Linked DNA regions of Homo sapiens. The protein of the gene in region 1 purifies or fractionates together with the protein of each later gene. This does not show direct contact. Each region holds a gene or a part of one and is shown in the gene's direction. Other genes may lie near its edges. The genes, in order: SBSPON, ZNF609 and ZNF703.

The links.
Region 2: the proteins of SBSPON (region 1) and ZNF609 purify together in Homo sapiens (affinity purification with mass spectrometry; 2 studies listed by BioGRID and IntAct, with this or other methods). This does not show direct contact.
Region 3: the proteins of SBSPON (region 1) and ZNF703 purify together in Homo sapiens (affinity purification with mass spectrometry; 2 studies listed by BioGRID and IntAct, with this or other methods). This does not show direct contact.

Annotation. Positions count from the first base shown.
Region 1 is NC_000008.11:73,067,943-73,078,142, reverse strand, and holds part of SBSPON (somatomedin-B and thrombospondin type-1 domain-containing protein precursor), read left to right. Parts: intron 1-2,399; coding exon of another isoform or gene 2,400-2,493; intron 2,494-3,557; coding exon of another isoform or gene 3,558-3,622; exon of another isoform or gene 3,623-3,624; intron 3,625-6,272; coding exon 6,273-6,363; intron 6,364-8,161; coding exon 8,162-8,338; intron 8,339-10,200.
Region 2 is NC_000015.10:64,463,578-64,470,577, forward strand, and holds part of ZNF609 (zinc finger protein 609), read left to right. Parts: intron 1-7,000. UniProt on the Homo sapiens protein: Transcription factor, which activates RAG1, and possibly RAG2, transcription. Through the regulation of RAG1/2 expression, may regulate thymocyte maturation.
Region 3 is NC_000008.11:37,689,632-37,700,048, forward strand, and holds ZNF703 (zinc finger protein 703), read left to right. Parts: upstream 1-6,150; 5' UTR 6,151-6,348; coding exon 6,349-6,591; intron 6,592-7,513; coding exon 7,514-9,043; 3' UTR 9,044-10,388; downstream 10,389-10,417. UniProt on the Homo sapiens protein: Transcriptional corepressor which does not bind directly to DNA and may regulate transcription through recruitment of histone deacetylases to gene promoters. Regulates cell adhesion, migration and proliferation.

The DNA of each region.
Region 1 (10,200 bases):
CTGCATTCTAGCAAGGCTTCCAGGGGCTTCGGATGCTCACTGGAGTTTGAGAGCCACTGCTGTAGCCCAAGCGTGACAGAGGCCCCTCTGTCATAGCTGGGTCACCTAATCAGCACTTTCCTGAAGGCAGAAGTTCCCAGAGTATCCTCTTTTATTAGAATAGTTGTGCAAGAAAAGGGATTAGTAGGAAAATATGGGGTAAATCAGACAGTTTTCTCTACCAAAGAACTTTTCAGAGCCTTTATTATGTGGATCTGCATTTTCATTCCATAAGAGAGAGAGAGGATTTGCAGTGTCTTCCCACTTAATTTGATCATATGATCCCCTTTTCTATGGAGCGTCCCACTAAAATCATTCATGTGCTGTGGAATGATCTTTGAAAAATGATGGCTTACTAGAGGAAAACAAGAGGGACATGAGAGGCAATCACGTAAACATCCAATTTCGTGGATTCTCCATGGGCCCCAGGCCCTGTTTGGCTCCACGCACTAAGCATTCACTTATGTGTTTCATTAACTTAACACTCACTGAGCACCTCCTGTGTGTGCCAGCACTGTGCTAGGTTTTAGAGATCCAAACTTGATTAACAAACATATCACAGCTAAATAGAACTCACGGTGGTGAGCTCTGGGATAGAAGGAAACATAGGTTGGCGTGGGAGCATGGAGAAGAAGCCCACACTCAACCTGGAGGCTCTCATCCTGCTTCATGGTCACCTGTGTCCCTGTTACTGCCTTCCACCCCCACTAGACTTCCTGTTCGCAGATCAGGCGCCTTTGAGGCGCGGCACACGAATCCCTCATGTTTGCATAGCAGAGAGATCTTACAGGCATCATTGGTTCAGCCTTCATAGCAACCCCGTGAAGGAGTGTATTCATTTTCTACGGCTGCTGCTACAGATTACCCCAAATTTAGTGGCTTAAAACAACACAGATTAGGCCGGGTGTGCTGGCTCATGCCTGTAATCCCAGCACTTTGGGAGGTCGAGGTGAGTGGATCACCTGAGGTCAGGAGTTCGAGACCAGACTGACCAACATGGTGAAACCCCATCTCTACTAAAAATAAAATATTAGCTGGGTGTGGTGGCATATACCTGTAATCTTACCTACTTGGGAGGCTGAGGCAGGAGAATTGCTTGAACCTGGGAGGTGGAGGTTGCAGTGAGCCAAGATTGTGCCATTGCACTCCAGTCTGGGCAACAAGAGCGAAACTCTGTCTCAAAAAAACAAAACAAAAAACCCCACAGATTTATGATCTTACATTTCTGAAGATCAGAATCTGACATGGGTTTCCCCAGGCAAAAATGAAGGTGTCAGCTGGGCTACAGGCCTTTCTGGAGGCTCTAGGGGAGACTCTTCTTCCTTGCCTTTTCCACCTTCCAGAGGCTGCCCACATCCTTTCCTCACTGCCGCCGTCCTCCATCCTCATAGCTAGCAACAATGCATTTCTCGGTGCCTTTCTTCCGTTGCCACATCTTTTTTTTTTTCTTTTCATATAAGATGGAGTCTTGCCCTGTTGCCCAGGCTGGAGTGCAGTGGTGTGATCATGGCTCACTGCAACCTCTGCCTCCCAGGTTCAAGCGATTCTCCTGCCACAGCCTCCCGAGTAGCTGGGATTACAGGCGCGCACCAACACACCCGGCTAATTTTTGTATTTTTAGTAGAGATGGGGTTTCGCCCTGCTGGCCAAGTTCTGACCAGCTCTTTCTTAGGATCCTGTGATTACATTGGGTCCACCTGGAAAACCCAGGCTATGCTTCCTATTTTAAGGTCAGCTGAGCAGCAACCTTAATTCCACCTGTAACCTTAATTCTTTGTTCCCATGTAATATAACATATTCACAGATTCTGGGGATCAGGACATGGACATTCTTTGGGGGCCACAATTCTGCCTCCACAGAGAGGTAGGACAGAGTCATTATCCTTGGTTTACACCTGAGGACACTGGAGTTCTGAGAGGTGACAGCACGTGTGAAGGACTACTGGAACTAAAACCTGGATCTCCCGGCTCTAAGTCTTATGGGATTTTCCCACCTCAATAGTGTTTTGCTATTAACTGTCATCATTACAGCTAAAATTGTAATTACAGATTCTTGTAACTAAGTAGAAATATAAATGCCCGTGAAGCTAGTGAAGGAAACATGATCCCTGAAGCTCTCTTATTAATGACTGAGTAGCTATTTCCTTTTTCCTGTTTCATTTAATGCATACCATAATTATATTTTTATTATAAAAACAAATTTAAAAAGCCACATTACTGAATGTGTTGCACATCATTGACAATTGTTTATATATATGTGTTTTCCTCCTAAAAGGAGATCAATGTGCATTATTATAAACCATATGCCTCTAGGTAGATATTATTTGTCAATTTTTCATTTTACTCTCTTCTGTACTATAGACCAGTGATCCCAGGCCTGCTTTTGTGACACCCCATTGTGTCAGAGGGCGTTATGAAATTCTCAAAGCAAATTTAATTTACTTTCATGTTCAAAGTAAGTATATGCAATGCCCTGCTTTTAGAAGTGGAAGTTGTTGTAAAACCAAACAATGGGAGGCTGATAGAACGCCAGAAACATTGGCAAATCGCCTGTGAACAAAGAATATATTGCACTTGAATACTGTTGCCAGGAAGGGGAACTTAGATTTATTGGGGGCCTTTGTCCCAGGGATGCTGGGTTACGTGCTTCCGCACATTAGCAGAAGTGTGGCGGGAGGCAAAAATAATTTCTAAGTTATTTCATTACTTAAGTAATGAAAAGTGAATTTGGGGGGGGTGTATTAAAAAGTGATGCTGGTTCTGGGACCTCCAGGCAGTCTGGCTCATGTGAGAGGGACCTTGGCAATAGAATGTGCCACCACCAAGCCCAAGGCCTGGGGACAGCCCTGGGTACCTGGCTTGCTCTTAGGATGCACCCTAATCCCAAGAGCATGAAACTGAGCTTGATAGAAAGTCCTGAAAAACAGATGGGCCAAGCTTGGTGGCAGATGCCTGTAATCCTAGCACTTTGGGAAGCCAAGGCAGAAGGATTGCTTGGGCCCCAGAAGACCAGCCTGGAAAACAGAGTGAGACCCCATCTCTACCACAAACAGAAAATGGAAAACAAAAATGCAAACCCCCAAGCCCTCAGAAGATAGCTTCTGTGCTGGGTCCTTGCTTAGTCACTTACTACTTATTTTCCCTTCATTTAACCTCGGTGAGCCTCAGTTTTCTGATGAATGAAATTGGTATAACACCCTTTTACAAAGTTTTTGTTGAAGGTAACACATGATGTGAAATTACTTTGTAAATGAGCAGGCTATACACATACCAGGGGCCATGGTACCCAGAGGGTGACCCTGCACCCACTGTGTGCCCTCCCTGGCCTCCTTACCTCTCTCATGGACTGAGGTGACTCCAGATACAAGGGGCTAAAAGTTTCTCTTTTCCTTTCTTAAATCTGACTTCACATAGAGCATAATGATTCGTGACAGAAAGGGAAAATAAAGCCAAATTTAAATAATTCATGGGAAAGATGCTGCAAACAGTACTGGAACTTTGTCATCTATATTATTACAGAGGCAGTGGAGTGCCGCCCTGAGGAGTTTGATTTCGGAGACGTTGCCTGGCTGTGCTATATTTAGATGTGAGCCTTAAACACATTTCTTAACCTCTCTGTGCCATAATTTTCTTGTCTGTGAAATGGGGAAATAATAGGATCTATCTCAAGAGGCTTGTGAGAATTAAATAAATTAATACCTGAAAAGTGACTTAGAGTTGTCCCTGGAAACTTAGAAGTGCGTATTTTTATTATTATAGAACCTTTTCCAAGAATTTTGTATCAGAAACTAGAATCATATATTTATGTTTTCCTTCCACTTCATAGCCTCTTTTTCTGAGCTATACATTAAGTACCTTGCCTTTGAACTTTTGTAATGATATATGCAGTACAAATTTGATTACATAAATATCTGAGCTAAAGAATCCCCAAAAAATTACAGGTGGACTTGTGTAATGCTGCATGGATTTAGCAGTAAATTGATTCTTCACTTAGTGAAGAAACACATATGTGTGTCTGAAGAACAGAAATGAAAATGTATGGGAGAATTAAATCCTTTAGATGTTTGTGTTTCTGATAATTAGGTCTCAGAGAAACAGAGAGGGATCCTGATATACATGCACTCTCTTGTTCTTTCTAATTCTGTCTGTAGATCTTAGAAATGCAAACGCTACAGTCACATTTAGAAAACAATTAAACATGTCAGTGCAGCAAAAAAGAGCCACACAGGAACAAGTGGCTACCCGGTATTAGGCAGCTGCTCTTGTCTGTTTTTTTTTGTTTTTGTTTTTGTTTTTTTTTTTTGAGATGGTCTTACTCTGTTGCCCAGGCTGCAGTGCAGTGGTGTGATCTCGGCTCACTGCAGCCCCCACCTCCTGGGTTCAAGTGATTTTCCCAGCCTCCCGAACAGATGGGTCTATGGCCGAATGCCACAAAATCTGGCTCATTTTTGTAAAATTTTTAGTAGAGACAGGGTTTCACCATGTTGGCCAGGCTGGTCTTGATCTCCTGGCCTCAAGTGAGCTGCCTGCCTTGGGCTTCCAAAGTGCTGGGATTACAGGCATGAGCCACTGTGCCTGGCCTTTTGTCTTAAATTCCCTAGTAATACAAAAATAACTCCTCATTAAGAAAAGCTCAAAAAGAGTTAAGGTTTGTCATCTTGGGATAGTAAAGAGACAGGTAAAATCAACATGTAGGCTTCAAGCATCTATTTTGCAACCAGTATCCTCACATTGTTGAGTTCATGTTGATGATGACTTTGGCGTCTCATAAGTTGATATCAGCTTGTATCTACCCTTCCTGGAATCGCGCAGTTTCTGAAACAGAGGTAGAGGACTGCTGAGCCATCTTGGCTGCAAGGCTCAGTATAGGAACGGAAGACTGCAGGGAAGTAGGGCCTGTGTGTCTTGGCTGCAAGCCCATGACCTCATTCATTCACTCACTGGCCCATTTATTCCTTGCACAAATATTTATTGAGTGTGTAAATGTGTGAAGCTATAGTGATGGACAAGGCAAAACCCTGCCTTCCTCAAGATGACAACAGAGTCAGTCCAGGAGACTGACACCTATAGGTGTTATTATAGCAACAAATGCCTCCCTAGACTTAGTGATGAGGTAGAGAGGAGACACACAAACACAATAGAATTAAAGTGAGCAGAGACAGGAGGAAGGATTCTTGGTGCCATTTTTTTTTCTCTGACCCAGAGCATCAGAGTTGGGGGAGGGTTGTGGGGAGGAAGAGGGAAAAGAAGGGGACCACTGAAGACTTTCTTTCCCTGAGCTGGTGTGGGGACAATGCTGTGCAGGCTGGCACTGGGCAGCCACATTGATACTATGTGGTGGGCAGAGCTTCCATGAACTTTTCCTGCTGTGGTTACCTGAGGCTTGGGGAAGACTCACCTTCTTTCCTCCTCTGCTTCTTCTGCCTTTTTCTTTTTGAGACGGAGTTTCACTCTTTTGCTCAGGCTGGAGTGCAGGGGCGCGATGTCGGCTCACTGAAACCTCCGCCTCCCGGGTTCAAGTGATTCTCCTGCCTCAGCCTCCTGAGTAGCTGGGATTACAGGCACTTGCCACCACGCCCGGCTAATTTTTGTATTTTTAGTAGAGACAGGGTTTTGCCATGTTGGCCAGGCTGATTTTGAACTCCTGACCTCAGATGATCCACCCACCATGGCCTCCCACACTGCTGGGATTACAGGCATGAGCCAACACGCCAGCTGCTTTTTTCCTTTCTCATTTTTTTCTCTGTTTGTCTGTTTTCTCTCCTTCCATCCGCTTTTACTCTCTTTTGTCTTCTCTCTATCCTTCTTTGTTTCCTTTCTATTCTTTTATTATCTTATTTCTCCCTTTCTTTCTCTATTTCTCTTCCTTTCATTTTTGAAACCTCCTCTTCTCTTCATGCTCTCTATTATCTCACTTTTTCCCTTGTTCCCCTTCTGACCCCCATCTTCCTTTCCTTCTGGTTTTTCCTCCTGGCCCCTCTCCTTCCTCTCACACAGTTTTATTACTGCAGACAAATGTGCTTGTCAAAGGCCTGCAGGCCCCCTCCCTACCGATCTGTGTGCACACACATCTTTATTGAATTTGTAACTTGGCCTCATTTCACACCTTGATGGTGTGCCGTAGCCCTGTGAGTTTAGGAATGGAGACCCTTAGACAGGTACAAAACCAAAATTGGGAAACGATGGTCTGAGTACTTTGGCTCCCTGAATTCAACAGAAATCTCCCTTTTCCAGTTCCTGCCTTTATAACTACCTCTGCATTCAACAAGGAGAGAACACGACAAGCTACGTCTCCACACTGGTCTACACACACAGAGGATGCTGGGTAATTTCGTGTTTTTTTTTTTTTTTAATCATGTTTTTCAATTGTATAGTCAAGTCAATGCAAGAGGGTCAACTTGGTTTATGTTTTCTTCTTCTTTCTACTTGCTCTTTGACTTTGGCTAAAATATGGACTCTTCATCAGAGTTGGGAAAATACTTGTCCCCTCCTGGTTTTTGTGGAGCTATAAAGATATATCTACCTCTTAGGTCCAATCTTCAACAAGAAACAAACTATATACAAATGAGATTATTTTGTGAGCTTATTTTATCAATCATACTAAGGATGCTTCTCTTACAGTCTTTATGGGACGTTAGACTTCAGCACCACCTCTGTTTGGTGAATTTGAAAGTGACACACACTTCAACTCAGAGGTTTCTTATGGAAACCTATTGGTACAGGCTGGAAGTCACCTTCACGCTCAGCTGAAATCCATTCTTCTGCTGTCAGATAAGGGATACCAGACAGCTGCACGCTCAGGTCCCCACACTGCCCTCACTAGCATAAGACCTTGAACAACTTGTTCCACCTCAGTTTTTTCTTCCTAAAAAATGAGACTGTTAATAACCTACCACATGAGGTTGGTATGAGCATTTAATGAGAAAATAACATTGAAGAGATGCCTGAGGCTGGGCCTGGTTGCTCATACCTGTAACCTCAGTGCCTTGGGAGGCTGGAGCAGGAGGATTGCTTGAGCCCAGGGGTTTGAGACCAGCCAGGGCAACATAGTGAGAACCCCATCTCTATGAAAAATAAATACTTTTTTAAAAAGAGCTGTCTGGGCTTAGCTCTCTGAAATTGATTGAAGCCACATTGTAGGATTTCTTACCTCAATAACTAAAGATACTTGTTACCTTTAGTTACTAATTAGCTGTACCTATCATTCTTAAAGATCTTTAAAGCAGATTCTCCAAACACTTCCCATTTATAACATATTGCAACTCATAATTGTATGGGTAAGAAATTAGCCCATGGAACTGAAAATGCCACAAGTTTCTGTTACAATACTCGGAGATTTTACTATGTCTTGTTTCCCTGAAGAATTGGAAAACTGCACTGAAGTACAAATTTCTAAAATATTCCTCATGTCTGGATGTTCCCCTGGGCTTTCAGTGTCCAGTCACATATAATGTTAGAGTTTTCCGCAGCTCAGTTTAAGGTGACACTAACTTCTGTCAGAAAAGTGTGTCTCAGCCTCCCACTTCTGCTTTCACCTGCGATGCCCAATGTAACTGTGATAATTGACTTCAAGTCAAAACTCATCATCATTACTCCAGACCATACAAGTGAGGTGGGTGGAGAGGGTGGGGAAGATCCCGGGTACTTTCGTGGAGCAGAACAGCAGAGGTGCTGACCTAGGTGTTAAGGGCTAGCCCTCCTGGGCTCACATTTTTAGGGTTCTCAGGCTCAAGCAAGTGCTTGTTCAATTTATAGAATTCCTTTAGATCAGCAAAATTATCAAGGACTGGGTTTCTACAAAAACCTGGACTTCTGTGCACAATTTAGTGATCTGATTAGACAGGATACAGGATATCCAAACTTCTGCACATTTATATTGCCCAGAGAGCTCAATGATGGACTGAAAAAGGGCACAAAGGTTCTTTGTGATTATCAGTAATATTTCACCATGCTTCAGGGAATGAGAAACCTTAAAGGTGATTGACACGTAACTTGTGAAGATGTACTCACTACCTGCTCCAGTCGGCCAAATGCCCTTGGAGGTGACAGGCTTTCTAAGACTTTCTACAGCTTTAGGCCACTGCTCATTACAGCAAGTGTCATTGTTACTTCTTTTGCTGTAGATACTGTATGGAGTTTAAGACAGAGTCCTTGACTCCTCACTGTGCTCTGGAAAACTGGCCCTTGACTAGATGGATGCAGTATCTCCGAGAGGGATACACGGTGTGTGTGGATTGTCAGCCTCCAGCTATGAACTCTGTGAGCCTTCGTTGTTCTGGAGATGGCCTGGACTCCGATGGGTAAGAATGGAAATTAACTGAAGTACTTTTCTTGTCACTCATTCTGAGAAATCTGTCCTCTCCATGTCCAGACAGCTGACCAGTATGTAACATATCAAGGGATGACTGGGAAGTCAAAACAGTAGGTGAGGAGGACCATCCTCTGGCACTGCCTGGGGCCAGGGCTCCAGTTCCCACTATGGAACCCACAGGCCCTATACACCAGCAGTTAATATGGGTCCATTTGGACATTGGGGGCTGGGAGTGGTGGCTCATGCCTGTAATCCCAGCACTTTGGGAGGCCGAGGTGGGTAGACTGCTTGAGCTCAGGAGTTGGGACCAGCCTGGACAACATGGTAAAACCCCATGTCTACAAAAAATAAAAAATTAGCCTGGCATGGTGGCGCATGCCTGTAGTCTCAGCTACTGGGGAGGATCACTTGAGTCCAGGAGGCGGAGGTTGCAGTGATCCAAGATTGCACCACTGCACTCTGGCATGGGTGATAGAGCCAGACTCTGTCTCCAGAAGAAAAAAAAAAAGGATATTGGAGTTTAGATCACATTCCCAAATGATCACCAAAAACCTGATCACTCCAAAGTGGTGTTCTGAAGATCACTAGAATCAGAATCTCGTGAGATGGAGATGTAAAATGTGCAGATTCCTGAACCTCATTTCCGACTAACTGAATCACTCTTTGGAGGTGGATTTTTAAAAATGTCTTAGGTCAGGATCCAGAAAACCTTTTCTGTAAAGGGCCAGAGAGTAGATATTTTTGACTTTGCAGGCTGTGTGGTCTCTGTGACAACCCCTCAACTCTGACTTTGTAGCAGGAAAACAGTCACAGACACTATGCAAACCTTGGATTTGTTCTAACAAAACTTTATTTATGGACCCTAAAATTTGAATTTCGTATAATTTTCATGTGTCACAAAATATCATTATTGTTTTGATTTTAACACTTTAAAACATAAAAATTATTCTTAACTCACAGTCCAGACACAAAGAAGGGGTAGGCCGGCTTTGGCCTCTACGGGGTCCTAGTTTGGGGACCCCTGCCCAGGTAATTCATACCCACGATGAAGTTTCAGAACTGTTGCTCAATGGGGCTTCTTCATAAAACCCTGACTGAGACAGTGGTGGGGTCACCTCTGCGGTATAATAATCTTATATAAATCTGTAGATTTCTCTGAAATAATTGACTCCAAAAACATTTTACAGTCATGCACCTGTATCCCAGTTCTGCACTTATTTAGTGTTTAAATTTGATAACACTATACAAAACTAAAAGAAGAGTCAACTTCGTGCTGGGCAACTATTGGGCAAAGACTAATTTAGGTCACACATAGATTATGGTTTTCAGTATGTCAGGTGTAACTGGTAGAAATACAGATTAAAAGGTAAAATATGGGCCTTTCCAGTCAATTATTATTCCTGTAGAATGTTTTCATATTTAATAACTAGAATTTATGTTTATTAGTCACTAGTGCCTCATGGCCTCCATTGAGCACACCATAAGAACAATAAAGTGGGTAAGGAATTTATATCAAATAGAAAATATTTACATAATATTTTTCTGAATACCTCATCCATGTTTTGGTTTTAAATGAATTTATAATTTAATTTGTACCCATATAGTATTTAAACCCTGGCTGAGGTAGCAGTGACTTTAAAAATAATAATTTTAATAATCTGGCTTTGTTCTTTTCAGCTCTCTCATTGTTTTTTCATTATGAAATCAGAGTTGGAAAGCAGTAAAAGAGATCATTTAGTTCAGACCTCCCAGTTTAAATACACATAGAACAGTCAGCCATTTTCCTTTATGCAGCACTTGTGCTCAGATAGAACGGGAAAAGCAAATACAGTAACCCCAAGTTACTCTGTC
Region 2 (7,000 bases), on another chromosome or scaffold:
TAGCCTTTGGTTTTGGTAAAGGTCTTTCTGAGGCAATTAGTCTGTCTATGGTGCCTCCCTTATCCTTTTATTTCAGTGAGTTTCTTTAAATGATGGCCTGCCACTGAGGTGTTGGGCCTTTGATAGGAGGGAACAGGTTGTTCTGACCTTTATATATTTTTTGATAACAGAACTGTCTTCAGGCCTTACTGGAGGTGTTGTCTGTCTTTAGACTATTTCCAACTCTGTGTCCTAGGAATATTTGAGTGAAGCCTCAGCTAAACTGAGTCCAAAGCTTTTTGCTCTTGGGCTCTTGGCATTTATTTCTGAATGCTGTCAGGTGACAGTGAAGGCAGAAGCCTCAGATTAAATTTGTCCTGATTAGATTTAGTGGCTTCAGAGTTGGGCCCTTGCCACAAGGAATCTCATGTGAGTCTTCTGATTGTGACCATCATTCAAAGAGTGCTTTGGATTCCCCCCCAACTACCCGTCCCAGCTTCTTGGTAGAAAAAAATTTCCTTGTGATAGAAGTCTAGAAAGTTGGACAGATTAGTGCTTATTTTGTGAGGATATGGAGGCATAATTTTGGCTCCTGGTAGCAATTATGTTGCAATTAGCATATAGCAACTAAATGACTGGAACACGATAATTTGTTGAGGGGTTTACTGATTGCTCTGTCAAGTGGAAGTGCCACTCCTTATTTATTTTATTTATTTGACTCAGAACACTATTGCCTGAGCTTAGCCATGGAGGCTAAGTATAGCAATGATATGTGTTCTCCAGAAGTTCCCACTCTGCTTCCTCTTTGTAGTTACTTCTTTTCCAGGTACCTTAGTACTTGTACTGCCCTTTTCTCCTACTCTGAAGGTAGCTAAGCAATTGTTATTTCCCTCATGGAAAACTGGTCATGGATGGGAATACTGCCAGGCAGATGGGATTAGCCTGAGATGAGGCAGCCTTATATTGTGTGGGAAGTTTTCTTTTCAGTCTCTTAATTCTCTCTTCTACTTGATTTTTCAAAATCAGTTTCCTTTAAAGAAAACAAACAAAAACCCCACAAAATGCAAAATATCGTAATGTATTAAATATGCCTTCATGATACCTCTGTTATAAAAGTTGTCTGTGACAGACAAAATGAAGATAGGTGATGTTGATTGGCAGGTTCTGGGTCCACTAAGTGTCAGTGAAGGACTCTTTTCGCTAGGGAACAGGTAATTCACCAAAGCACCTGCCTAGCTGGGCATGTGGAATTGGCAGCAGCTGTGTAGCTGAAGAGGGATTACTGAGCAGGTGGTTGAAGAATCACATGCCACAGTGACAAGAAAATACTTGGTCTTCCGTGGGTTAGATTCAGTTTGTATGTGTGAAATTGCACTTTGTTTCACATTTCTTAATGCTTGTTGATTTGTTAGTAAGATGGTAATAGAATAGAGAAAGAGATTCTTCTGTAACTGTGGTTTTTTAGATCACTCAGTAGCATGCCCTAGACATGGCCCTACACGGCTCTATTGTATTTATGGGAGTTCTGGCTTTATGCTTTGTGCATGGGAGGGAAATAGTGGTAATTCAGTGTTTCTAGTACTTGTTTATTAAAGGGAAATGGGAAGGAGAAAATTTCTTGCTTTCAGTATGGTGAAAAAGATTTAGCCTACTGGGTGGATACCTAATAGGTTTTATGCAAATGATGTAATTGACTTTTTGTGGAAGTCTACCTGACATGCCTTACTCAAGTGATTTTGCATGTGTTTTTATATTATGTTTTTATATTATGAATATATTTCCCCACATGAAGTTTGCATCTCTTCGGTTGTTTATTTGTTTGTTTGTTTGTTTTTCTTTTTTGAGACGGAGTTTCGCTCCTGTGGCCCAGGCTGGAGTGTAATGGTGCGATCTCGGCTCACTGCAACCTCTGCCTCCCAGGTTCAAGCAATTGCTTGCGTCAGCCTCCTGAATGGCTGGGTCTACAGGCGCCCACCACCATGCCCAGCTAATTTTAGTATTTTTAGTAGAGATGGGGTTTCATTATGTTGGCCAGGCTGCTGTAGAGCTCCTGACCTCAGGTGATCCACCCACCTCGGCCTCCCAAAGTGCTGGGATTACAGGTGTGAGCCATCATGCCCTGCCAGTTGTTTTTTTCAATTTTTAGTTTCTCCCAGCACCTTTGTAACTCTTTTCCCTGACATTGACATTAACATCACTTGTTAGAACCAAGTCATCACCAGAAGAAATGATGTTAAGGAACATCACCACTAAATATTTATCTTAAAAACGGATATAGGCCGGGCGCAGTGGCTCATGCCTGTAATCCCAGCACTTTGGGAGGCTGAGGCGGGCAGATCACCTGAGGTCAGGAGTTTGAGACCAGCCTGGCTGACATGGTGAAACTCCATCTCTACTAATAATACAAAAATTAGCCAGGCTTGGTGGTGCACTCCTGTAATTCCAGCTACTCGGGAGGCTGAGGCAGGAGAATCGCTTGAACCCGGGAGGTGGAGGTTGCAGTGAGCTGAGATTGCGCCATCGCACTCCAGCCTGGTCAACAAGAATGAAACCCTGTCTCAAAAAAAAAAAAAAAAAAAAAAAGTTAGCGGGGGGTATAGCATTTCCTATAACTTGGGAAAAGACTATTTGAGGTTTTCTGAAAATTCAGATTTTTTAATAGATTATCATCTTCTGTTAATATGATTTTCTCTTTCATATGTTTGTGCCACTATAATAGGAATGCCATAGAGCCTAAAACTTGTAAGCAAGTAACTTTGTGTTTATTTTCTGACCTTTTTAGTGCCTTCCATTCATTTTCTATATTAGGCCAACAGGTTGTGTGCCCCTTCTCTTGAAACACATACACACACGACCTAATGGAATTCACAGGGTACTAATTAACGGATGATTGAAGAGAAATGAGCCATATGAACTGTTTTAAAGTTCAGAAATCTCTTTCCCACAGCCCAAGTGGAGTGAAGGCTCTTTGAGGGAAAGTGAGGCCAGACTATGACTCAGGTCAGGGCCTATGGAGCACTGCATAGATGGGGACATTTGCAGTGATCTACCTAAAGCTAAGCTAGCTTTAAGTGGAAGTCTAGCGACAGCAGTTAATTGTTTAGTATTCACTTCTAGGAAAGAATGTCAAGTTCTTGATTTCCTCATACGAAGCTATGGCAGTTTTTTATGTTTGTTTTATTAAAACTGTTCACAAACCACTTATGCTTTCCTAGCACTCTCAGTAGTTTGCTTCCTTTTACCTTTCCCCCACCCCCATCTCTTATCCCACTTCCCTACCCTGAAGACTTCTCTAGCAGCTTGGAAACACTCTAATTACTGTAGCTATTATAGTCACAACCCAGATCCTCCACCTCCTTCTCTCTCACCCCTTTCTTTCTTCCCCCCTCCCCTTGCTCTAGCAGCAGGAGTTGAACTGCAGTCTCATGAGCACAGTCAGATCTATGAATGAGCTTTATATCTTGTCAAGGCAGAACTCCAGATCCAACAGGGCTAATTTTTCATGGTTCTCTTGCTGTTTGTTCTTGGATCAGAGTCCCAGAAATAAGAGATGGCAAATACCTGTCAGGTCATATCTAGTCCATCACTCAGGGGCAAACCTAGGATTTTTCTCTTGTCTCTGTGAGAAATTTTTCCTTCTTTCTTTTGCAGGTGAGAGCTGTCTGATGCCAGACAAGCTCTGAAACTGCCTTCTTTTTATTGTGTTCTCTGGTCATTAGTGTCTGGCCAACTTCTTTGGGGTTTTTTTCTTTTTTAATTCCATTTTTCAGGAATACTTCCTCCCAGCAATATCTCTACCCCTTCTTCAGTCCTTTCTTCTTGATTGTGGGCATCACCTTTGTGGATTCCTTTTGTACCATCAGTTATCTATGCCAGAAGTATCACTTTTCTGACCTTTGCCACAAGTGTCACTGTGGCCTGCTTTTAAGGAGGTACATTTGATGAAAACACAGGACATAAATTCTAGCAGGTGGTAATTAATAAAATACTTTAGAAAACATGTGCCTTAGCCCGGTGCGGTGGCTTACGCCTCTAATCTAAGCACTTTGGGAGGCCGAGACGGGCGGATCATGAGGTCAAGAGATCGAGACCATCCTGGCCAACATGGTGAAATCCTGTCTCTACTAAAAATACAAAAATTAGCTGGGCATGGTGGCGCACGTCTGTAGTCCCAGCTACTCGGGAGGCTGAGGAAGGATGATTGCTTGAATCTGAGAGATGGAGGTTGCAGTGAGTGGAGATCGTGCCACTGCATTCCAGTCTGGCAACAGAGCAAGGCTCTGTCAAAAAGAAAAAAGAAAATATGTGCCTTAAGTAACCCCTGTACTATATGAACAAATGTTGCTTCTTCTGTTCTAACACTTCTCTTTATGTGGATGAAATTTTATTTTTCTGTGTCTTTGTTACAGTTAAGATATTGTCTAAGAGTGTTATGTTTTCTTTACTAGTATGCTTTTTTTTTTTTTCTTTTTTGAGGCAGGGCCTTGCTCTGTCACCAGGCTGGAGCATAGTGACACAATCACGATCACAGCTCACTGCAGGCTCAACCTCCTGAGCTCAAGCAATTCTCCTACCTCAGCCTCCCAAGCAGTTGGAAGTACAGGCAGGCGCCACCACACCCAGCTAATTTTTTTTTCCTCCCTCCCTCCCCTTCCTCTCCTTCCTCTCTTTCCTTCCTTCCTTCCTCCTTTCCTTTCCTTTCCTTTCTTTTCTTTTCTTTTCCTTCCTTCCTTCCTTCATTTTCTCCTCTCTCCTCCTCCTTCTGCTTCTCCTTCCTTAAGACAGGGTCTCACTCTGTTGCCTAGGCTGGAGTGCAATGGTGCAATCACAGCTCATTCCAGCCTCAATGCCACCACACCTGGCTAATTTTTTTGTGTGTTTTTTTTTGTTTCGCTGCATTGCCCAGGCTTGTCTTGAACTCCTGGGCTCAAGCCATCCTCCCACCTTGGCCTCCCAAAGTGCTGGGATTATAGGCATGAGCCACTGTGACCAGCCCAATTTTTAAATTGTTTTTGTAGAGATGGAGTCTCACTATGTTGTGTGCCACTGCACTCCAGTCTGGTTGCCCAGGCTGGTCTCAAATTCCTGGACTCAAGCAGTCCTCCTTCCATGGTTTCCCAAAGTGCTGGGACTACAGACATGAGCCACAATGCCTGGCTAGTATAGCTTTTCAAAGAATAGAGGGGAAAAAATCATAGAATTGAGAGTCATAAAACCCAGATTCTGATCATTACTGTGCCTCTAATTAGCTGTTTGTCCTTGTGCAAGTCATGCCCCTGTTTTCATGTGCCTCATCTGTGAAATGAACACATTAGACAGGATGATCACTGCGGTTCCATTTAGCTGTAGAATATCATGATACCAAGATTGAGAGTCAGGTTGACACTTGTAGTCCTAGCACTTTGGGAGGCTGAGGCAGGAGGATCACTTGAGCCCAGGAGTTGGAGACCAGCCTGGGCAACAGAGAGGCCTCATATCTTAAAAAAAAAAAAAAAAAAAACAACACAATTCAGCCTGGCCAACATGGTGAAACCTTGTCTCTACTAAAAGTACAAAATTAGCCGTGTGTGGTGGCACATGCCTGTAATCCCAGCTACTTGGGAGGCTGAGGCAGGAGAATCGCTTAAACTTGGGAGGTAGAAGTTGCAGTGAGCCGAGATCAAGCCATTGCACTCCAGCCTGGGCAACAAGAGATAAATTCCATTTCAATAAATACGTAAATAATTAGCCAGGTGGTGTGCACTGTGGTCCCAGCTCTTCAGGAAGCAGAGATGGGAGGATCGCTTGAGCCCAGGAGGTCGAGGCTGCAGTGAGCTGTGATCTCACCACTGCAATTCAGCCTTCACTCGCACAGAGCAAGACCCTATTTCCAAAAAAAAAAAAAAAAAAAAAAAAAGATTATGGTGGAAGAACAGGACAAAAATATTTAACATAAGTGAGCATCTTTTTTTTTTTTATTGCTGGTCAAAAATATAGCCGGTATTCAGAAGGGCTAATGAGTGCAATTTCAGTTCCCTGGGGCTTGACTCTCATACTCTTTGATTTGTTTGGAAGGCTGTACTTTTATTAGGCCATCTTTTTTTGGAGGGTTTTGTAGCCTCATTCTGCAGGCTCACCAACTTGCCGCATATATCTTTTTCTAGTGTGCTTAAAACATAGGAGTGGAAATCAGAAAGCTGCAAAAAAGGCTGGCCTGGCTTGGTGGCTCACGCCTGTAATCCTAGCACTTTGGGAGGCCGAGGCGGGTGGATCAGCTTGAGGTCAGGAGTTGAGAAAGCTGCAGAAAAGGAACCTTAGCTTGTGAGAAGGAAGTTGTACCTGGAAGGATTTGCCATCTATCAATAAGAAGTAACTTTGTAAATTCAGTCAAGGATCTAATAATCTATTATATCTGAAATCTGGGAGCTAAATTGGACTGATTATGGAGGTTAGTTGGATATTTTTCCACTTTTGACTAGTCAGTAGAAATTCCACTTTGAATTAACTTCTTGGGACTGAGTACAAGTTGAGTTGCCCACAGTGTTTTGTTCGGAAAATAAAATTATGTTGTTATTTATTTATTTTTGACAGGGTCTTACCCAGCCTTGACCTAGTGGGTTCACCTCAGCCTTCCAAGTAGCTGGGACTACAAAAGTGTGCCACCATGCTTGGTTAATTTTTGTAATTTTTTTTGTAGAGATGATGGTTTGCCATGTTGCTCAGGCTAGTCTTGAGCTCCTAGGCTCAAGCCATCCTCCTGCTTCAGCCTCCCAAAGTGGTGGGATTACAGGTTTGAGCCACTGCACCCAGCCAATTACGTTATTTTTAATGCTGAAAATGCACGTTGATGACATTTGCCGAAGTATGACGAACAAGGGGGTATCTCTGAAATACCCTCCTAAAAGAGACGAGAAATGAAAAGCTGGTTGGTAAGTGTTTCAGGAACTTTCAGATTGAGAGTAATGTTAGGAAGTATTTGCTTTCAAGCAGTTTTTTTTTTCTTTTTGAGATGAAGTCGCTCTGTTGCCCAGGCTGGAGTGCG
Region 3 (10,417 bases), about 35 Mb from region 1:
AATGGAAGCTCCCCTCACTTCCTTCTCTGCCTCAGTTTTCTCCCTCCCCTATTTCTCATTTCTCAAGATGAAAGGAAAATCTGATGGAGAAGACCAGCCCTCTGGAAAATGATCAATTTGTCTTCAGTTTCTCCTCCTGCTCTCTCTGACTTTAAGCCTCCCTCTCCTTCAGTCCCGCACTCTGTAGAGTGGAGTGGCTCAGGAACCAACTATCTGGACTTGAATCCTGGATCTACCACTTTCTAGCAGTGTAACTCAGGCAAGTTGCTTAACCTCTCTGGGCCTCACCTACAAAACAGTACCTTACCTATAAAACAGGCATAATAATAGTGCTCACCATGGTTTGCTGTGAGAAGTAAATGAGTTATTACAGGCAAGGTGCTCAATACAGTGTCTAGCAGGATAAGTGTTCAATAGATGTTATTATTATCCTGGGAGGAACACTCACTCTGCTAACCACAATTGGCTGATAAAAAGGGTTTGACGCCTCCCAGCAACATTAGCGACTTAAAAGAGGAATCTCTAAGAAACTTGAAGGTCCAAAGGAACAAAGCAGTCAGGGGTGAATGCCCAGGGCTAGCGTTGATGTATCAGGGCAGGTCAGGCTAAGGAAGGAGAACTTCAAAATCACACCTACTCCATCTCCCCGGCCTAGCTCCCCAGGAGCTGATAGGAGATAAACCAAACCACCCTCTTCAAAGCAGCTGCTCAAGGACCGGGATCAAACGCACAGGCTTGGAGACAAGCTTTGGTCCGCACTTCCTTTTGTCCCTTCCTCCCCACCACATCTCTAGAGGAAATTCTTAGGTGAGGAAAAGGAGTTCATTCTTCCTTCTTTTATCAAAAGGAGTTAGCTCTCTGTCCACACAACAACAGTGGCAGAAGGCAATAGACCAAGAACCAGGGAAGGGACCGAGAAGGACTCATTCTGTGCCCATTCTGCCAGCCTTTTGCTGTGTGTGACTTTGGACGCTCCCTTAAGCTCTCCGAGCCCATTTCCTCATCTGTCAAACAAGGATAATAACACCTGCCCAAAGGAAAGAAAATTGCTGTGAGATGCTGGACCCAAAGATGCATTTGGGGCCAGGCGCAGTGGCTCACGCCTGTAATCCCAGCACTTTGGAAGGCTGAGGCAGGAGGATCACCTGAGGTCAAGAGTTCAAGACCAGCCTGGCCAACGTGGTGAAACCCTGTCTCTACTAAAAATACAAAAATTAGCTGGGCATGATGGTGGGCGCCTGTAATCCCAGCTACTTGGGAGGCTGAGACTGGAGGAGAATCGCTTGCACCCAGGAGGCGGAGGTTGCAGTGAGCCAAGATCACGTCACTGCACTCCAGCCTGGGCAACAGAGCAAGACTCTGTCTCAAAAAAACAATGCATTTGGGAAAAGGTACTTTAACATGTTTATACAATCAACATTTTGAAAAATACAATCATCCGTGTTAAACCTTTTGGGAATACAGTGAGGTGTGATATAAATAAATAGCCCTATTTTTGTAAAATTCTTCGTTCATCAGAAACATTCACTGGGTACTAACTGCACTGAGACTGCCTGGACCTGGATTTGACACTCCAGGCTCACCTCCTACCAGCTTGGGCCTTGGGCAAGTTACTTAACCTTTCTGTGCCTGTGAAATGGAAGTAACCATAGGACCCATCTCCTAAGGTTTCTGCAAGGATTAAATGAGAGAATGCACGCAAAGTGCTTAGAACAGCGTTTGGCACTCAACGTTGGCTACTGTGGTGATGGTGAACCGCTCTGTTAGGCAATAAGTACACAAAGAGGATGAGGAAAACAAGAAGCATTCACAGTCCAGTGGGAGATCAGACAAGGAAGCAAATAGTGGCAGATGCCATGTGATAGGTGTAATAATAGAACATAATACCAACTGTGAGAATGTAGAAGAGGGAGCCTCTTGAGTCATCGGTGGGGCGGGCTTCCTGCAGGGCTGGCTGTCCTGGTCTTAGCCTGCTTGCTCCCACTGTTCCCTGGTGCCCCTCTCGTGCCCCAGGCTGTGTCTGAAGCCGGGGGATGGGGCAGACAGAGGAAGCGCCTTCAAGTGCCCTGAGTGCAGTGTGCTAAATCAGGGCTCCCGGCCAAAGCAGTAATTGCCAGCCGCTGAAAGATATTAAGCGCCAGGGAGGAAAACCAAGTTCTCTATGAGGCAGACTTTTCAGAGTTCTTACAGCTTGTAAAAAAAAAAAAAATGTAAATAGTTACCCAGTGAGATATTATTTCATGTTGTTGCCATTAGGGTTTGAGTGTTATGCAGAGAGAGGAGAGAGAGGCGATCATTCAGGCAATTCTGCCTCGGCAAGGACTGAAAACTACACATTAACCCCACACAACAAATCTACCCCCTCTAGGTCTTAACCTGACTCGAGCATTTTTTCCTGGGTGGTGAATTTTATGTAAATTGAAGTAGTGAAAAAATAATCTATACATATTCACAGTTTCTTAAAGGATTTTCTTGATGGCTTCTAGGGAGGGATGGGCTATTTTTTTTTTTTTTTAAGACACATTGCGGGCTGGGCACGGTGGCTCATGCCTGTAATTCCAGCACTTTCGGAGGCTGAGGCCGGCAGATCACTTGAGGTCAGGAGTTCAAGACCAGCCTGGCCAACATGGAGAAACCCCATCTCTACTAAAAATACAAAAATTAGCTAGGCATCATAGCACACGCCTGTAATCCCAGCTACTCGGGAGGCTGAGGCAGGAGAATCGCTTGAACCCGAGAGGCAGAGGTTGCAGTGAGCCGAGATCATGCCACTGCACTCCAGCCTGGGCAAGACAGCAAGACTCCGTCTCAAAAAAAAAAAAAGACACATTGAACTGGAGGCTGGGGAAGGGTTACTTTCATTTCTGTAGAATTCAGAGACAACCTGGGCTCTTCTGCTTGGGTTCCCAGGGCTAAATCTGGTGCTGATGTGGCTGCTCCCCTGAGCAATTGCTCCTCAGACACAAATGATGCAATCGGTTACAGCCATCATTTACCTTCAACTTTCTTTGTGCCAAGCATGAAACAGGTGACATGCATTGTCTGCTTCTGGTCTCCCAACTCTGAAGTGGCCACGCTTCCATTTTACCCTGGAGGAAACCAAAGCTTAGGGAGGTTCACTTGCCCGGGGTCCCCACAGCAGCCTGGTTCTGGGCCTGACTCTCTTCAGCTTGAACTGAGAATGATAGCAACACCTGATGTTTATTAAGCGCCTGACATACCGAACTGTCATTCTTCACCACAGTGTCATGGGGGCACTCTCAGGCAGCCCTCTCCCCTGTCCCATTTTAATGGTGGCCGCTCATTCCCAGGGCCATCTGAGGAGGACCTGGACAGTGGAAGGCCCCTGAGCCACGCATCTGCCACTTTTTTGCAGAGGGAGAACCTGTGTCATATGTCCTGAACAGGGATGTCTTACTCGGGCCTTCCAACCACATCGCCCTCCATAAACACAGCCCATCTGAATACAGAGCCACATTCCCTCCCAGGTGACAAGCCATTCCTCTGAAAACTACACTTGCCTTCAGGCCCCGAGGGCCCCATTTAGTGCTCTGTATAGGTTAGCATTTTAGCTAAGTGAATGGTGAATCCCAATTGTAATAATCATCTAGCAGTGTTTTAATTAGGCCTCTGGCCTGGCTATGCATGGTTTTTCATTTTCCCTCCTAAGACGTTTGGATGGATCCAGCCAAAGAAACCCTGCTGCCCTGACCAGCAGCTCAAAGTGTGTCCCTCCCGCCTTGCATGCTTTCAGAGGTGTGTCCTACCACTTCCCAGGAGGTGGGAGCAGGCCAATCTGTGTGCCCGTCAGTAATTACCACTGGGAGCTCAGGGAGTGAGGTGTTTTTAACAGGACAGTATAGTATTACCTAGGCAAATCCCCCATCACATCCTGCCAGTCTGTCCTTACCTCCTCTTCTCTCCCTTCCTTTCCTTCATTCACTACCTTTTTCCTTCTCTTTTCCTCTCCAAACAGAGAGTGAATATTCTATTGTCCTCTCTCTTCTCCCCTCTCTCCTTTCAGCTGCCTCCTGCTCTGTTTTCCAAATTCCTAAATACCTCTTCCCTCTCCCCTCCCCTTTTCCTCCTGACTTATTTCCCATTAATCATTTCTAACACACATCTGCTCAGGCCCTAGAAGGATCCCTTGGCTCCCTCTCACAGCTGGGCTGGTTACAATAATCAGGGAGACTTTCATCTTTCATAGCCTCCTAGGTCTCCCCTCTGCCCAGCTCCTCCTCCTCTGCGTTCCTGCAAAGGCCAGCCTCTCTGCACCCTGGCTTCCTTCTGCCCTTCCCGCTCTACACAGCAGTCTCCCGAAGGCAAAATGGCTTGTGGGTGGACACAGCCCTGCAGTGGACTTTTACAGGTGGTGTTTGCAGTGATGGCAATGGCTGCCCGCACAGAAGTCGGCATGAGAAGCCTGCCACGATGAAATAAATGAGATCACTCCCTCCCTTTTCATTCCCGCACCCCTCTTGCTGCAATGTGGGATCCATCTCACAGTCAGGGTACCCCTTTCCATTCGGCGTAACATGATTTTACCAAGATTAAAATTGGGGAACATGTAATTACAGCTTGTGTAATTTCTAAGCATTCTATAAGTGCTGCCCAAAATACAGTATGGATCCAGGGAGTGCACTTAGTTTTGGGTATGACTGATACTGCCTGGAAGTGGGGTCTGCTGTCTTCTACTACTGGGCAAGATACAGATTCGTGATAGCTATTTCTTTCTGTTTGAAGAGCTCCTTTGAAATCACCTCTCCCCATCTTGGGTTCTCAGGTCATCTCAAGGCGTCGGTCAGCGCGGCAGAGTCGGGAACCTGCCATCCTAGAGCAATACGCCCCGAGTGACAGCCCTGACAACCGGAGTGATGGATCGGGACTGGAAAAGTGGTGCTGGGAGCCAGGCAGTGACACCAGCGCGCCTCCACTGGCCGCCGAGCGCACGGAGAAGTGGGCTCCCCAGAGTTCGGCACCCAAAGGACCAACTTCGCCTCCGGAAAAGCGGCGGATCCGGAACTTGGATGTCAGGACTATGACTACGTAAAATCTCTGCCCAGGGCGAAGCTAGCAATGCACACTGTATCAGAAAGGCGCAGGGAGTCGGGAAGGGTATTGTTATTTTTAATTAAAAGTTTTTATCCCGAAATTTGCCTGGGGAAAGCAAGTGCTTTTTCCCCCGGAGTGAGAAGGATGGGGGGGCGGAGGGGTTGTGTTGCCGAGCAGCGCTTAGAGAGAGATCCCCCTCCAGGGACACCCGCCTCGCCCGTGATCTCGGTCTCTCCTCGTAGCAGCTGGGCGCGGTACAGTGAGGAACTTCACGCCCCTCAGCAGGACACGGTAAGAAGCCTGTAACACACCAGACACCGAGCCTCTAACGCAGGGCGCAGGCACAGCGCGCACAGCCTGGGGTCCCGCGCTTGGTCGCCGACCATGTCACTCCAGAAGGGAGACAAACTTGCAGGCTTCAGACAAGACGGGCTCAAAGTAGTTGGAGCTGCCTACGCCGCGTCCCGAGAACAGTGGGTGCCTCCGAGGCTCGGGCGCTTCCAAGTGAACACACCAAGGGGAGGCCAAGTAGGGGAAGGAGAGCGGGGCCGAGGAGAGCCGGAGCAGCTCTGGAGAAGGACCCGGGCTCCCGAGGCGAGGCCTGCCCCCAGGCGGCCTCTGGGAGAGGCTTGAACTCCAGCGTCCCAGAGCCCGCGCCGTGCGATCCCTCCCACCCCACCCCACCCCACCCCACCCCACCTCGGACACACACGGCGGGCGGGGTTACAGCCCCCGCCAGCATCACCCCCCACCCACCCAGTGGTGAGAAGGGAGAGAGGAGAGAGAGCGGCCGGAAAGGAGGACGGGGCGCAGAGCTCAGGGTCCCGGAGAAGTCCCGTCCCAGGCGGGGGACCCCAGGGCGAGGAAGGCCCAGTCGGGGGGAGGGGAGGAATCCCGGGAGCGGCCGAGACCGAGGCAGCGGCGGCGCGCGGCGCGGCCCCTTTAAGGCTCTCCCCGCCCACCGATGGAGCCGGCCTCAGCCCGCCGCTCTCCCCGCCCCGGGGTCCCGGCGAGAGCTGCGATTGGGCGGGCGCGGCGATCCCTTTGAAGTGTGGCTGCCGATCGCGGCTATTTGACGTGCGGCTCGAGGAAGGCGAAGGTTTTTGTGTTGCTAGCCGGGGCCAGCGGCGGTGGCGGCGGCGGCGGAGGCGTCGGTGGAGGAGGGGAGGCGGCGAGGAGGCGCAGCTCCCGCTGCACCGCGATCGACGCTGCGGAGCGAGCCCACCCGCCCCGGGAGCTCGCCTCCCCGGTGCTCCCCCGCCCTCCCCGCCCCCCCAGCGGCGCTGCCTCCTCCAAATGAGCGATTCGCCCGCTGGATCTAACCCAAGGACACCCGAAAGCAGCGGCAGCGGCAGCGGCGGCGGCGGGAAGAGGCCGGCGGTGCCGGCAGCGGTGTCCCTCTTGCCACCGGCGGACCCCCTGCGCCAGGCGAACCGGCTCCCGATCAGGGTCCTGAAGATGCTGAGCGCTCACACCGGTCACCTCCTGCACCCGGAGTACCTGCAGCCGCTGTCCTCCACTCCCGTCAGCCCCATTGAGGTCAGTCCCCGGCCGCTGCCCCCGGGCGCCGGCCCCATTCCTCCCACCGCGACCGGGACCCTGACCCAGCTCCCAGCGCCCCGGGGCTCGGTGCGACACCCAAGTCTGGTCACGCTGGCGGGCTGAGTGAGGAGGGGAAGAAAACCGAGGGATCAGAGCCCACCAGGGCTTCCCCAGGCTTCCCCGTGGAAGGGTCTCCTTCCACGCTCGCCCTTCGGAGCTCCGTGTTTTCTCTCGGATTGGATTTGCTCCTGGAGTCCCCTCTGGGTCCTTTACTTTTCCTCTGATCCCCAGTTTCCAGCCAGGAGTTGGTCTCTGCTGGGTCTTCCCCGCCCCCCACGCCGGGCTGTTTTCTTTGAAGCCCTGGCTGCCCGGGTCCCACTTCGCCTCTGTCCCATCCGGTGAGGGCGCACGGCGCCCTGGCGCTCCCGATCCCGGATCTTTCTTCCTGCCTCTTCCCTGGGTGCCCTCCCCGGGAGGGAGGGGCTACGGAGAGAGCGCCAACTGCAGCCCCTCCTTTAGAATCCGCGCTCCCCTCTCCTACCCCGCGGCGCCATCGCCAGAAACCCGTCCCAAGCGAAGTTCCCCCAAACTAAAGGAATAAGTTTTTTCCTGGGCCTGGAGGAGGGGGACATTAGAGGGAAGTGGCGAGTCACAGCCCCGACTCCAGAGACGTCACCTTCTCCCGCAGGGGTCCTGGGTGAACTCCTTCCGCAGGGCCTGCGGCGCACCCCGGGACCCAGCGGCAGTGTGGGCGCAGTTCCGCCAGCTGCCGCGCCCGGCCCGGCCCTCGCTCGCAGACCCTCTCCCCAGGCCCGCCCCGCCCCGTGGCGCCGCCGCCCAGCTCCCCGGGCGCCCCCGCTCGCCCCGCAGGCCTCTGAGTCTCACTCCTTCTCCCTCCCCCTGCTTCTGTCTCCCACAGCTGGACGCCAAGAAGAGCCCCTTGGCGCTGCTGGCTCAGACCTGCTCGCAGATCGGCAAGCCGGACCCGCCGCCCTCCTCCAAACTCAACTCGGTGGCGGCGGCGGCCAACGGGCTGGGAGCGGAGAAGGACCCCGGCCGCTCAGCCCCGGGCGCCGCCTCCGCAGCCGCGGCCCTGAAGCAGCTGGGGGACTCACCGGCCGAGGACAAGTCCAGCTTCAAGCCCTACTCCAAGGGCTCCGGCGGCGGCGACTCCCGCAAAGACAGCGGCTCCTCCTCGGTGTCTTCCACCTCCTCCTCGTCCTCCTCGTCCCCGGGAGACAAGGCGGGCTTCAGGGTCCCCAGCGCCGCCTGCCCGCCCTTTCCCCCGCATGGAGCGCCGGTCTCCGCATCCTCGTCCTCGTCGTCGCCCGGCGGCTCCCGCGGCGGCTCCCCGCACCACTCTGACTGCAAGAACGGCGGCGGGGTTGGCGGCGGGGAGCTGGACAAGAAAGACCAGGAGCCCAAGCCCAGCCCGGAGCCGGCAGCCGTGAGCCGCGGCGGCGGTGGGGAGCCCGGGGCGCACGGTGGCGCCGAGTCCGGGGCCTCCGGGCGCAAGTCCGAGCCGCCCTCGGCGCTGGTGGGGGCCGGCCACGTGGCGCCGGTGTCTCCCTACAAGCCGGGCCACTCGGTGTTCCCGCTGCCGCCCTCCAGCATTGGCTACCACGGCTCCATCGTGGGCGCCTACGCCGGCTACCCGTCTCAGTTCGTGCCTGGCCTGGATCCTAGCAAGTCCGGCCTCGTGGGAGGCCAGCTGTCTGGGGGCCTGGGCCTGCCGCCGGGCAAGCCCCCCAGCTCCAGCCCGCTCACCGGGGCCTCCCCGCCCTCCTTCCTGCAGGGATTATGCCGCGACCCCTATTGCTTGGGAGGTTACCACGGCGCCTCGCACCTCGGCGGCTCCAGCTGCTCCACCTGCAGCGCGCACGACCCTGCCGGGCCCAGCCTGAAGGCGGGGGGCTACCCGCTGGTGTACCCCGGGCACCCGCTGCAGCCCGCCGCGCTCTCGTCCAGCGCCGCCCAGGCCGCGCTCCCCGGCCACCCGCTCTACACCTACGGCTTCATGCTGCAGAACGAACCGCTGCCGCACAGCTGCAACTGGGTGGCAGCCAGTGGGCCGTGCGACAAGCGCTTCGCCACCTCGGAGGAGCTGCTCAGCCACCTACGGACCCACACGGCCCTGCCGGGAGCCGAGAAACTTCTGGCCGCCTACCCCGGGGCCTCGGGCCTGGGCAGCGCCGCCGCCGCCGCCGCCGCCGCCGCCTCCTGCCATCTGCACCTCCCCCCGCCCGCCGCCCCCGGCAGCCCCGGGTCGCTGTCCTTGCGGAATCCACACACTTTGGGCCTAAGCCGGTACCACCCCTATGGCAAGAGCCACTTATCCACAGCGGGGGGCCTGGCCGTGCCGTCCCTCCCCACAGCCGGACCCTACTATTCGCCATACGCGCTGTATGGACAGAGACTAGCTTCAGCCTCGGCGCTGGGATACCAGTAACTACAGCTCTTCCTCCACCCCAGCCCCCTCACCCTCCTCCCTCTCCCTCCTCCTCCCTCCCCACCTGCCGTCGCCGCTGCAACCTCCACTACTGCTTGACCCTGCCGGGATTCCCCACCCAGCCCTTCCCCACCGGACTGTGTATTTATTTACTATAATGTTAGCTTACAAGCTGGGAATATAAGTGCATTAACGGCCCACATGAGTCAATGGTATGCAAAAAGTCTGTGTTCTCCCAAATAATAATATTAATCCCACAAATAACGACATGATCCCCGCCCCTGTTCCTTTCTGTTATTTTTTCTTAGATATAAGTTTTACATTTTTTATTCCTTTTCCTCTTTTTTTGGTTTTGATTGGTTTGGTTTGAGGGAGAGTTGGGGTCTTTGGGTTCTTCTAGACGTTTTGTTTTCCCTTCCTGGGGAGTTTCTTGCATGAGTCTTAACTTAAAACTACGTTTCCGCCTTCTCTTTTTCCCTCTTCCCCCTTCATTCCCTCTTGTTTCCTTCCATTTGCGGTTCTGTTTTTGTTTTTTGTTTTGTTTTGTTTTGTTTTTTCCTTTGTTGTACAAGTAACAGAGAGGAGGTTTTTTTTGTAACTCATTTTGGGGGTGGAGGGGGCCACCTGGGTGGCAGGGGCCCTGGAGCTCTATTGACCTGGTACACTGCTCCGGGACTCCTCCCCCGCCACCCTCCGCGCATAGGGTCCTTGGTCTGGACCCTGCCCCCCAAAAGTAGGGCCTTGCTCCTCTACCTTGCTCTGAGCACGGAGAGCCCTGACCCCACCAGTAGGCTCGCCCCCAGAAGGGCCCAAGTGGCCGTCTACCGTCACCTTCCAGACTCCCGCCCCTAACACCCAGTGGCTACAGTGCGCCTGTCGGGGCACCTGGAGCGCTCACCTGGTTGAATTCAAAGTCCCAGAAGGCCCCGCTGGCGTGAAGCCGGCCCCTTACATTTTGCGAAGTGCATTATAGTCCTTGTTTTTCTCTCCCTCGTGGGGGCAACGACCCCTCCCCTGGCAGTAGGGGTGGGGTAGGTGACTCTCGCTAGATCCCTCCAAAGCAGACCGGTGGCGATGTCAGCGGATGTCACGAGCTCGTTAGCTGCGTTCGGGGAAGGTTGGGGCGTCAGGGAGCTCTCGGATCACAGCAGCCCCCGCCCTCTCCTAGGCCTGGCCCGGCAGAGCCCCCAGAGTGGACCCCCCAGCGACTGGGGTCTTCTCCCCACTCCTCCCTCCTTCTGGTCTGATGCGGCAGCGCGGGGGCTGCGGGGCCTGTTTGGGACGAACAGAGCTCTCCCTTGGTAAGACTTATTTTGTTAATAAATGGAATACTTGGCTATATTCACACCGTGGTGTTTTTCTCTCTTGCCTCGC